2 separate regions of the Homo sapiens genome follow, and region 2 is linked to region 1. Evidence: fine-mapped expression QTL. A gene starts in region 1. The other region holds a variant in brackets. All regions are shown on one strand. Distances are from middle to middle.

The links. PIP is the estimated chance that this variant, and not a neighbour inherited with it, causes the effect.
Region 2: its variant is fine-mapped to the expression of BCAS4 in whole blood (INTERVAL, PIP 0.92).

Annotation. Positions count from the first base shown.
Region 1 is chr20:50,792,630-50,798,002 of GRCh38, reverse strand. BCAS4 (breast carcinoma amplified sequence 4) reads right to left here and starts at 2,942. Exons shown (of 5, transcript NM_198799.4): 1 at 2,830-2,942. The coding sequence starts at 2,919. RefSeq lists a silencer at 2,390-3,209.
Region 2 is chr20:50,876,096-50,881,468 of GRCh38, reverse strand. BCAS4 (breast carcinoma amplified sequence 4) reads right to left here. Exons shown (of 5, transcript NM_198799.4): 5 at 4,292-4,983. The coding sequence ends at 4,861. Among named protein-coding and RNA genes, the nearest start is that of ADNP-AS1, 52 kb to the left of the region's middle. RefSeq lists enhancers at 1,088-1,587, 1,588-2,089, 4,748-5,328. The variant C/T (reference allele first, on the strand shown) is at 2,617.

The DNA.
Region 1 (5,373 bases):
TTTCATGTGGCTCCTAGAACACTAAAAATTGCGTAGGTGGCCACGCACAGTGGCTCACACCTGTAATCCCAGCACTTTGGGAGGCCGAGGCGGGCAGATCACCTGAGGCTAGGAGTTCGAGACCAGCCTGACCAACATGGAGGAACCCTGTCTCTACTAAAAATACAAAATTCGCTGGGCGTGGTGGCGCATGCCTGTAATCCCAGCTACTCGGGAGGCTGAGGCAGGAGAATCGTTTGAACCCAGGAGGTGGAGGTTGCGGTGAGCCGAGATCACACCATTGCACTCCAGCCTGGGCAACAAGAGTGAAACTCTGTCTCAAAAACAAAAAAAATTGCATAGGTAGCTCACATTTGTAGCTCCAATTATATTTCTATTGGACAGTGTTTATGGATACATGCTCATGTTATTTTTAATTTTTAAATTTTTGTTCGTGTTATTTTTAATTTTTTATATTTTAACATTTTTTTGTAGAGACAGGGGTTTCCCTGCGTTGCCCAGACTGGTCTTGAACTCCTGGTCTCAAGTGATCCTCCCACCTCAGCTTCCTAAGTCGCTGGAATTACAGGCATAAGCCACTGTACCCTGCCTCCATGCTATTTTTTTAAATTGAGATATAATTCACAAACCACAAAATTCACCCTTTCAAAGTGTACGATTCAGCAGTTTTCAGTATATTCACAAATTTGTGCAACCAACACAACTATCTAACATCCAGAACATGTTCATTACACCAAAACGAAGCCCCATACCTTCCCATTAGTAGTCCCCACACATTTTTCCATGCTATTTTGAGTAAAGAAAAGCAAGTTGCAGGACAGTATTACAGCAGCAAGTGAGGTTTCATTTAAAACTAATATAGATGGGCCAGGCATGGTGGTACATGCCTATAATCCCAGCACTTTGGGAGGCTGAGGCCAAAGGATCTCTTGGGCCCAGGAATTCAAGACCCGCCTGGGCAACATAGTGAGATCTCGTCTCCACAAAATAACTTTGTTTTAAAAGTTAACCTGACATGGTGGTGCGCACCTGTGGTCCTGGCTATGCGGGAGGCTGAGGTGGGAGGATCACTTGAGCCCAGGAGGTTGAGGCTACATTGAGCTATGATTGTGTCACTGCACTCCAGCCTGGGTGACAAAGTGAAACCCTGTCAAAAAAAAAAAAATTAAAAACGTCTGTTCAAAAATTATTTTAAAAATATGTGGAGATGGCTGGGCGCTGTGGCTTACGCCTGTAATCCCAACACTTTGGGAGGCCGAGGAGGGTGGATCACGAGGTCAAGAGATAGAGATCATCCTGGCCAACATGGTGAAACCCCGTCTCTACTGAAAAATACAAAAATTAGCTGAGCATGGTGGCACACGCCTGTAGTCCCAGCTACTCGGGAGGCTGAGGCAGGAGAATTCCTTGAACCTGGGAGGCGGAGGTTGCAGTGAGCTGAGATCATGCCAATGCACTCCAGCCTGGTGACAGAGCAAGACTCCATCTCAAAAAAAAAAAAAAAAAAAAAAAAAATATATATATATATATATATATATATATATATATATGGAGAAAAAGAAAAAGAAAAAAGAGAAAACTCATATATATGTATATATATATATATGGAAAGATATTTTATGGTTTTTTTTTTTGAGAGGGAGTTTTGCTCTTGTTGCCCAGGCTGGAATGCAATGGCTGATCTCAGCTCACTGCAGCCTCCGCCTCCCAGGTTCAAGCGATCCTCCTGCCTCAGCCTCCCAAGTAGCTGGGATTACACACCCGGCTAATTTTTGTATTTTTAGTAGAGACGGGGTTTCACCATGTTGGTCAGGCTGGTCTCGAGCTCCTGACCTCAGGTGATCCACCCGTCTCGGCCTCCCAGTAGTGCTGGGATTACAAGCGTGAGCCACCAGGCCTGGCGAGATAGATTTTTTTTTAAATGTCTCACTCTGTCGCCCAGGCTGGAGTGCAGTGGCATGATCAAGCCTCACTGCAGCCTCACTCTTCCCCGTCCCCTATCCCCATCCCAAGCAATCCTCCTGCCTCAGCCTCCCAGAATGCTGGGACCACTGGCATGAGCCAATACTCTGCCTAGGCAGATACAGATATCTACATTTGTAAATGCATTTTAAATGTCCGGAATGATTTATACCAAACAGTTAATGCTGGTTTTCTAAGAAAACTAGAATTGGGGTGGGAGAGAAAAGAGAAAGGGGTGCATAGCCTTTATGTTAAATACTCCTGTACTGCTTTTGTGGTTTAAAAAGAGAATGGGTTGAATTTCTGACCGTAAATAACTCCTAGTGAACTCAGACAAATAACTTTTTCACAACAGCGTCGACAGATGCCTCCAGCCGGAAGGTAGAGGGTCTCGTTTTAGATCTGCTTTTCACTTGGTGCTTTTAAAATAGAAAGCGCAGACAGAGGCGTGGTGTTTTCGCTCCGAGCTGCAGCAGCGCAGCGCGGCCCGCACAGCCGCAGCCTGAGGCGCCGCTCGGCCCGGGCACCGCTCGGAGGTAGCCGGGGCAGCAGAGGTCCCGGGGTCCGCCTCTCCCAGGGCCGGCCTGGCAAAGGGCGGCGCCTGAGGACCCGGCGGATGCTGGGGGACCCGGGTGGGGAGGGAAAGCGAGCCTGGGCCTCCGGGGCCCGGTGTCGCCCGGAGGAGCGAGCAGGGACGACCCGCTGCACATCTCTGCGTGGCGCCCCGCAGCCACCCTTCAGGAAGGGGGGAATCCCCGGGCCCCCCACTCCGGGAGCGAGAGGATGCTCCGGGGAAGCCGAGGGTCCGGAGCCCGGACCCCTAACCGCGAGAACCCTCTCCTCCAACTCCACAGCCCCGTCCCCTACCTCGGCCCCAGGCTCGGGGGTCAGGAAGAGCGCGAGCTCGCGCGCCCCGCTGCGCATGGGCTCCGGCTGATCAGCGTCCACGAGCAGCATCAGGAGGGCGACGGGGTCCGGCTGGCGGAGGCTGCCTGGGAGCCCGTGGTTGCGCCCGGGCCTCGGAGCCCCGCCCCCGGTCCGCTGCATGCCCCGCGGACCGCCTGGCGGAGGCGGGGCAGGTGCGCTCCCGGCGGTCGCGGCTCGCAGCTCCAGGAGCGCCGGGCCGAGCGGGCAGCGCCACCCAGTGGCGAGCGGCGCGCGCTGCGCCCGCCCCCGCAGCACCTGGGCATCAGTGCTTTGCAAACTCGCTTGCAGATGGCAGTCACCTGGAGCTCTTTTAGAATTTCCCAAGCCTGGACCACACCGTCTCTGGGTTAAGACCTGGGCATCAGGATCTTTTGATGTTTGTTAGGTGGTTCCAACCAGATTGTTGACCCAAAGCTAAATTTGAGAACTATTGGGGCAAGCCACCCCTCCCCATCGGAATCCCGGTAGAGTACAGGCTCCCGGCCCCGGACCCGGCCGTAAAATAGAATCCCCGGGAAGCTTTTAAAAGCCCGGAAGCCAGGCCTCGCACCAGGCCGATTAAGTTGGAATCCTTCGGAGTGGGGCTTGGGCATCGGTAGTTTCTAAAACTCCCCGGGTGATTCTAACGGGCGTCCGGGTTAGAGAGGCGCTAGCTTAGAGGAAGCCCAAAGCCGCCCGCCCCCCACCCGTTCCCATCCTACTAAAGCATCTAGTTTGCATCGGGCGGAGGGTCCTGGAATTTAGGGAAGGCCGAGTGTGACGGTCCTCGTCTTCCTCTTCGGTGCGGATTTTAAAATAAACTTCACCAGGAAACTATTGAGCGCACTACATTTCACAACCGCACCCACTCCCTCCATGCCCTCGGAGGCCGGCCTAGATAGACCCTTTACAAGCCTTGGGGCTGAAGAGAGCGAGGTGCGCCTCATCTCCCACCCCAACAGTGCTAATGAGGAAAGTACTAAAAGGCAAATAGGTATAAGACAAGTCTGAAGTTTTGATTTTTCGTTTGATGACTTATTTTTATTTTTAATTAATTAATTTTTTTTTTTTGGAGACGGAGTCTCGCTCTGTCGCCCAGGCTGGAGTGCAGTGGTGCGATTTCGGCTCACTGTAACTTCCACATTCCGGGTTCAAGCAATTCTCCCCCTCCCTCAGCCTCCCGAGTAGCTGGGATTACAGGCGCCTGTCACCACGCCCGACTAATTCTAATTTTTGTATTTTTTAGTAGAGACGGGGTTTCGCCATGTTGGCCAGGCTGCTCTCGAACTCCTGACCTCAGGTGAGCCACCTGCCTCGGCCTCCCAAAGTGCTAGGATTACAGGCGTGGGCCAGCGCCCCCTGCCTGCTGACTTTTCTTTAAATGTTAAATCGCCTCACAAAAAAAAAAAAAAAAAAAGGCTGAGCTGCTTGGGCAAACATAAGGAGACTCCATCTCTCTAAAAGAAAAAAAAAAATTAAAATTGCAGGATGTGGTGGGGCACAACTGTAGTCCTAGCTACTGGAGAGGCAGATGCAGGAGGATTGTTTGAGGCCAGGAGTTCAAGGCTACCGCGAGTTATGATCGCACCACTGCACTCCAGCCTGTGTGACACAGTGAAACTCTGTCTTTTGTTGTTGTTGTTGTTTTTTAAAAAGGAGGGGCTGGTATCAAGGGTGCAAATAAATATATAGGACGTCCCACACCTTCCTCTCCATTAAATCTGAATTTATATTGTAGTTGGCCACCCTAGGTAGGGGCCTAAACAACACATGTTTGACCTGCCTTTTGTGTAGTCCATCACTGCACAATTCCCACTTCCAAATCTGTCCACTGCTAATTTCTCCCTATCCAAATATCCAGGCCTTCAGGCCAGTCATTTTCTGGAAAATTCTTGGCAAAGACTTGGGCCTCAAGTGCTTAAGGGTTTTATAGGAACTCACTGAGCCCACACTCGGCCATTCGTCATTGTCATGATTTCCCTGATGCTCTGAGCCCTCCTCGCCATCCCCTGGGAGCCGGTCTCAGACCCTTGCCCTTGCCTGCTGGCTAGGCATCTCCCACAAAGAGCCCAGGACTGGCCTCAGATCACCAAATTGACCTGAGCACAGCAAACTTCTCCTGGTGGATAAATCTCAGAAACATAAAGCTAAGGAAGAAAAGTCGTGTTGCAGAAGGCTCTGTAGGGCACTGTGCCATTAGCACAGTTTTTAAAACACGCAGAACCACACTGTATATTGTTTATGGACACCGACAGATGGAGCAAAAGTACAAAGCTGTGCATGGGAACGACGTACCCCATGTTCCAAAAGTGGTTACTTTAGGGCGGGGGAGAAGAAACTGGAGAGGGGTATGGGAGGGAGGGATTTCTTTTTCTTTTCTTTCTTTCTTTCTTTTTTTTGTTTTTTGACAGAGTCTTGCTTTGTTGCCCAGGCTGGAGTGCAGTGGCACAATCTCGGCTCACTGCAAGCTCTGCCTCCCGGGTTCAAGCGATTCTCCTACCTCAG
Region 2 (5,373 bases), 83 kb before region 1:
ATTATCCCTTTGTAGCATGAGATGCAAATATATTTTCCCAATTTGTCATCTATCTTTTGAATTTGCTTAGGATTTTGTTGTTTTGGGATTTTTTGGTTGAGTTTTCCGTTGGTTTTGCCATGCAGAAGTTTAAAAATTTTATATAATCAAATTGACCTCTTTTATGGCTTCTCGATTTTGTACACTTCGCCAATGTTTTTAACCTATTTCTTCAATAGATTCGTTTTATTTTACTTTCTAAGACAGGGTAACACTTTGTCACCCAGGCTGGAGTGCAGTGGCACAATCTCAGCTCACTGCAGCCTCAAGTTCCCTGGCTCGAGCAATCTTCCCACCTCCCACCAAGTAGCTGGGTCTATAGGCAAGCACCACCATGCCTGGCTAATTTTTCTATTTTTTACAGAGAAGGGGTTTTGCTATGTTGCCCATGCTGGTCTTGAACTCCTGAGCTCAAGCGATCCACCCACCTTGGCCTCCCAAAGTGGTAGGATTCAGGTGTGAGCCACTGCACCCGGCCAATAGATTCATTTTATACATTAAGCTCCTAATCGATTTACAATCCAGGTGTGCTGAGTGAGGTATGGAGCTCTATTTTTTCCAGAAGTTTACCCAATTGTCACAACATGAAAACATCTTAAAACAATTCAGGGCAAACCACACATTTCTGCCAATCAGATACAACCCCATGGGCTGCTACCTTGAAACCTCTTGCTTTGGTGAGCACGAAGTTCACATCCGCTGGGAAAGTGGGAAAGGGGGTTGACCGAAGAGCCTTGCTCTTGGGAAGAAATCTGCAGTGACCTTTCTACTGGTGTCCCTGTCCAACATCAGCCACAAAAGAAAAAGACTGGCAGGCCTCGGTGGCTCACGACTGTAATCCCAATACTTTGGGTGGCCAAGGTAGGAGGATCGCTTGAGCCCAGGAGGTTGAGACTAGCCTGGACAACATAGCAAAACCCCGTCTCTGTTTAAAAAAGAGAAAGATCAGATCACCCTTTCCTAGGCTGCAGTTACCCTTACCAAGGGGTTAGAGGCCATCAATAGTCAGCAACCGAGGACATCATTGACTGGACAATGGAAATGTCAGGCACTTTGCTTTAATGAGGACGCACATGAAGTCACCTGGCACAGGGACAGTGGAGCCGCTCAGAGGACTGAGGTTAGGGGTTGGTGATGGCAGGGCGCAGTGTCCCGGCCTTCCTTCTCCCCAGATGTTTCCAAGCGTCCCTTAAAGCTCATTGTTTGGCAGTGCAAATCCTAGGAACTTTGGAACGGCTACTTCCAGTTCACTTGTCACCTTTTCCCCATAGATTTCCTGTGCAACCTCACCCCTCCTAACAGGACAGGGAAACCCAGAGAGAGCAGCCTCCATTCTCCCATGACTTCTAACTCTGACACGTAAGGGCAGTCCCTGAGTCACTCGCTGTTCAGGCCCTCGGATGCCGCTGGTCAACTGAGAAACGCAGGACAATCAACCCTTTCCCCATCACAGCCCGGGCCCTGCAACAGCAGCCTCCCATTACTGAGAGCCCCTCGCCAGTGTGCCCAGCATGCACACAGCTCACCTCATGTCACCCTCACCACAACCCATCAGACCAGAGCCATCCTCATGTCTTACCGCAGGGGCAGCTGGACTCAGAGAGAGCAAGTGAAAAGCCCAGCTCACACAGCTAAGAGGCATGGGAGCGGACAGTGCTGCCAGGCAGGCTAACCTCAGGGCCATGCTCCTAGCGTGGGGCCTGTGGGTCCCTGCTTTAGGACACTCAACGTTGCTGCGGCTTAATCACATGGGATTTCCTTCCAACTCTCCCTGGCCCCTGTTTCAGGGGCTGGGAGGAGAAAGAAGCCTGGGAGTGCCCAACACTCAGCAGATACTCACCCTTCCGGAAATGAGTGTCCTCAACTGCTTGTCTAAAAAATTAACATTAGCTTTCTCCTTTTTCTTCTTTTTTGAGATAGGGTCTCGCTCTGTTGCCCAGGCTGGAGTGCAGTGGCACGATCTTGGCTTGCTGCAACCTCCACCTCCCAGATTCGAGCGATTCTCCTGCCTCAGCCTCCCGAGTAGGTGGGATTACAGGGGTGCACCACAGCACCTGGCTAATTTTTGTATTTTTAGTAGAGATGAGGTTTCACTATGTTGGCCAGGCTGGTCTCGAATTCCTGACCTCAAGTGATCTGCCCACCTTGGCCTCCCAAAGTGCTGGGATTACAGGCGTGAGCCACCTCACCCGGCCAACTTTCCATCCAACGTGTGCTCTCCCTGAGCACACTGGGGCATGCAGAGTGTCCAAGCTCCCTTCGATAAAAACAGTCCCAGCCAATACAACACAGCCATGGGAATGATCTACAGTGACACAGCAACAGTGACACCTCCCAAGGTAACATCAAGCCGGTGAGGCCAGAGACAAGAGATGACACACCGTAGGTACACATCCCGTGTGTCCTCTCTTTATACAGAGCACAGAAACAAGAAACTCCAGTCCATATGGTTAGATGTCAGTATGCTGTCAGCCTGGGGTGGGGGTGGGTATGGGCATGGACCAGAAGCGGGCATGAGGGGGCTGCTCAGTGCTGATAATGTTGGTTGCTCAGTCTGGTGAGGCTTAAATAGATACA[C/T]TCAGTTTGTGAAAAATTTAGTGAACCACTTAGGCACCCCTTTCTGTAATATAAATTATACTTCAATAAAGGTTTGTGCCAACACTACATTTTGGGAGGCCGAAACAGGAGGGTCCCCTGAGCCCAGAAGTTCAAGACCAGCCTGAACAACATAGGGAGACCCTGTCTCTACAAAAAATAAAACAAATTTGAAAAGTTGCCAGGCATGGTGGTGCACATTTGTGGTCCCAGCTACTTGGGAGGCTGAGGCAGGAGGATCACTTGAGCCCAGGAGCTTGAGGTTTCAGGGAGCCATGATCACACCACTGCACTCCAGGCTGGGTGACAGGTGTCTCATTTAAAGAAAAAAAAAATTGTAAAAGTCACCTCAATAAAAAAATGCTGACCGGGCATGGTGGCTCACACCTGTAATCCCAGCACCTTGGGAGGCCAAAGTAGGAGGATCACCTGAGGTCAGGAGTTCGAGACCAGCCTGACCAACATGGCGAAACCCCGTCTCTACTAAAAATACAAAAATTAGCTGGGCGTGGTGGTGTGCTCCCGTAATCCCAGCTTCCTGGGAGGCTGAGGCAGGAAAATAGCTTGAACTCGGGAGGCGGAGGTTGCAGTGAGCTGAGATCATGCCACCGCACTACAGCCTGGGTGACAGAGTGAGACTCCATCTCGAAAAAAAAGAAAAGAGAATAAAAATGCTGACTTTTCCAGAAACAAGGGGTCTACCTATATCTCTGAATTCCAAAAATTGTCTAAACTATTTCCCTGCTTTTCTGTTTTTAATTTTTAAAAACATTTTTAGCCAAGATCTCACTTGGTTACCCAGGCTAGAGTGCAGTGGCACAATCATGGCTCACTGCAGCCTCAACCTCCCAGGCTCAAGCAATCCTCCCACCTCAGCCTCCCAAGTAGCTGGGACCACAGATGTGCACCAGCACGCCAGGCTAATTTTTGTATTTTTGGTAGAGATATGGTCTCATTATGTTGCCCAGGCTGGTCTCAAACTCCTGGGCGATCTGCCTGCCTCGGCCTCCCAAAGTGCTGGGATCACAGACATGAGCCGCTGCACCTGGCCTCTACTCTATCTTGCCAGATTCATTATTTTAGGCTTCCTTGAAAAACTTTTTTGGGGTGTGGGGGACAGGGTCTTGCTCTGTTGCACATGCTAGGGTGCAGTAGAACAATCACGGCTCACTGCAGTCTTGACCCTGTGCATAAGCGACCCTCCTGCCTCAGCCTCCCAAGATGCTGGGATTACAGGCATGAGTCACCTTGCCCAGGCAGATTATCTTGAAATTCTAATGCAGATTTACAGTTCAGTCCTGTATGTGCATAGGGGAATTATGTGTGTGTTCTTGGCTCTTCGAGGAATTCCAGAAATACCCATTGCAGGTTGAAGCCACAGTGAGAAATCCGGAGTGTTAGGACAATAGCAGGAAACTCATCTGCATGGGAAGAAATGTGGGTAAACAAGCCTTTGAAGACCCTGGGGGTCCTAATGACCTCTGCACTCTTGCTGGAAATCCAAAGGCCGGGACTACCCCTCCCTCAGCTGGAGCCTCATCAGCAGGTGCCCAGGATCAGGCCCTCGCAGGTGAGGCACAGGAGGAACCTTCTAGAAAACACTGCACAGGTGAAAAGGAAACTATCACTCCCCGTCATTCTCACACCAGACCAGGGCTGAGCTCTTGACACCTTTATTGGAAGGATCCTCAAGGCTGTGGGCACCGAGGTCTGGAGGCAACAGAAGCAGCATCCACCCACCCACCACAGTGGCAGAGCACACCCCGTGCAAAAACCCATCACAGAGAGAAGGACCATGGAGCCCCTGCAAAGCCATCATGGAGAGAAGGAAAGTCCCCACTGTCCATCAGCCCCGGCCAGGCCTGGTCCCTCAACCCCTGTAGAACCCCAAGCAGGCCGATGTGGGAGGCATCACCACACGTGGGTTCCAACTGCTTCTCCAAACCCTGTGGTCTCACATGAGGCAGGGAGGAAATTTGAAAATGGCAGCAGCCTGGGCACGGAGGCTCCTGCCCATAATCCCACCACTTTGGAAGGCCAAGGTGGGTGGATCACTTGAGCCCAGGAGTTTGAGATCAGTCTGGACAACATAGTGAGACCCCATCTCGACATTTTTTTAAATATTTTTAAAATATAAAATAAACAGCAATACAAAGAAAAAACCCCCAAGCTGCAGTGTGTACACAATGTCACTTTCCAGCGTTCCTGATGGGAAGACCACAAAGCTCACAAAGGCCGAGGGCAGGTGCGGGGGTGGTGCTGTGCTTCCCCGGCGTCCACAGGAAAATAGTCCTCCGTCCTATACAGTGTGGGCAGCTCGTACGTCACGGGCACCGGTGCAGGTGACTTCTGGAATGACAAGAAATGAAGCTCTATCAGCGATTTGGATCCACTTGTTCCATGACCCAGGAATTCCCGGTCTACAAGTTCATCCTGCAGGACTCACACATATGACCAAAGACTCTGAGCTCCTCTGACAGCACTGCCTGTGACAGCCAAAGCCGGCCACCCAAAGGGACCAAGGCATCCATGTCAGGCCCTCTCCACAATGGAATACTCTGTAGGCATCAAGAAGAGCCAGGCAGCCCAGGCGCAGTGGCTCATGACTGTAATCCCAGCACTTTGGGAGGCCAAGGCAGGCGGATCACTTGAGGTCAAGAGTTTGAGGCCAGCCTGGCCAACACAGTCAAAGCCTGTCTCTACTAAAAATACAGAAATTAGCCGGGCATGGTAGCGCGC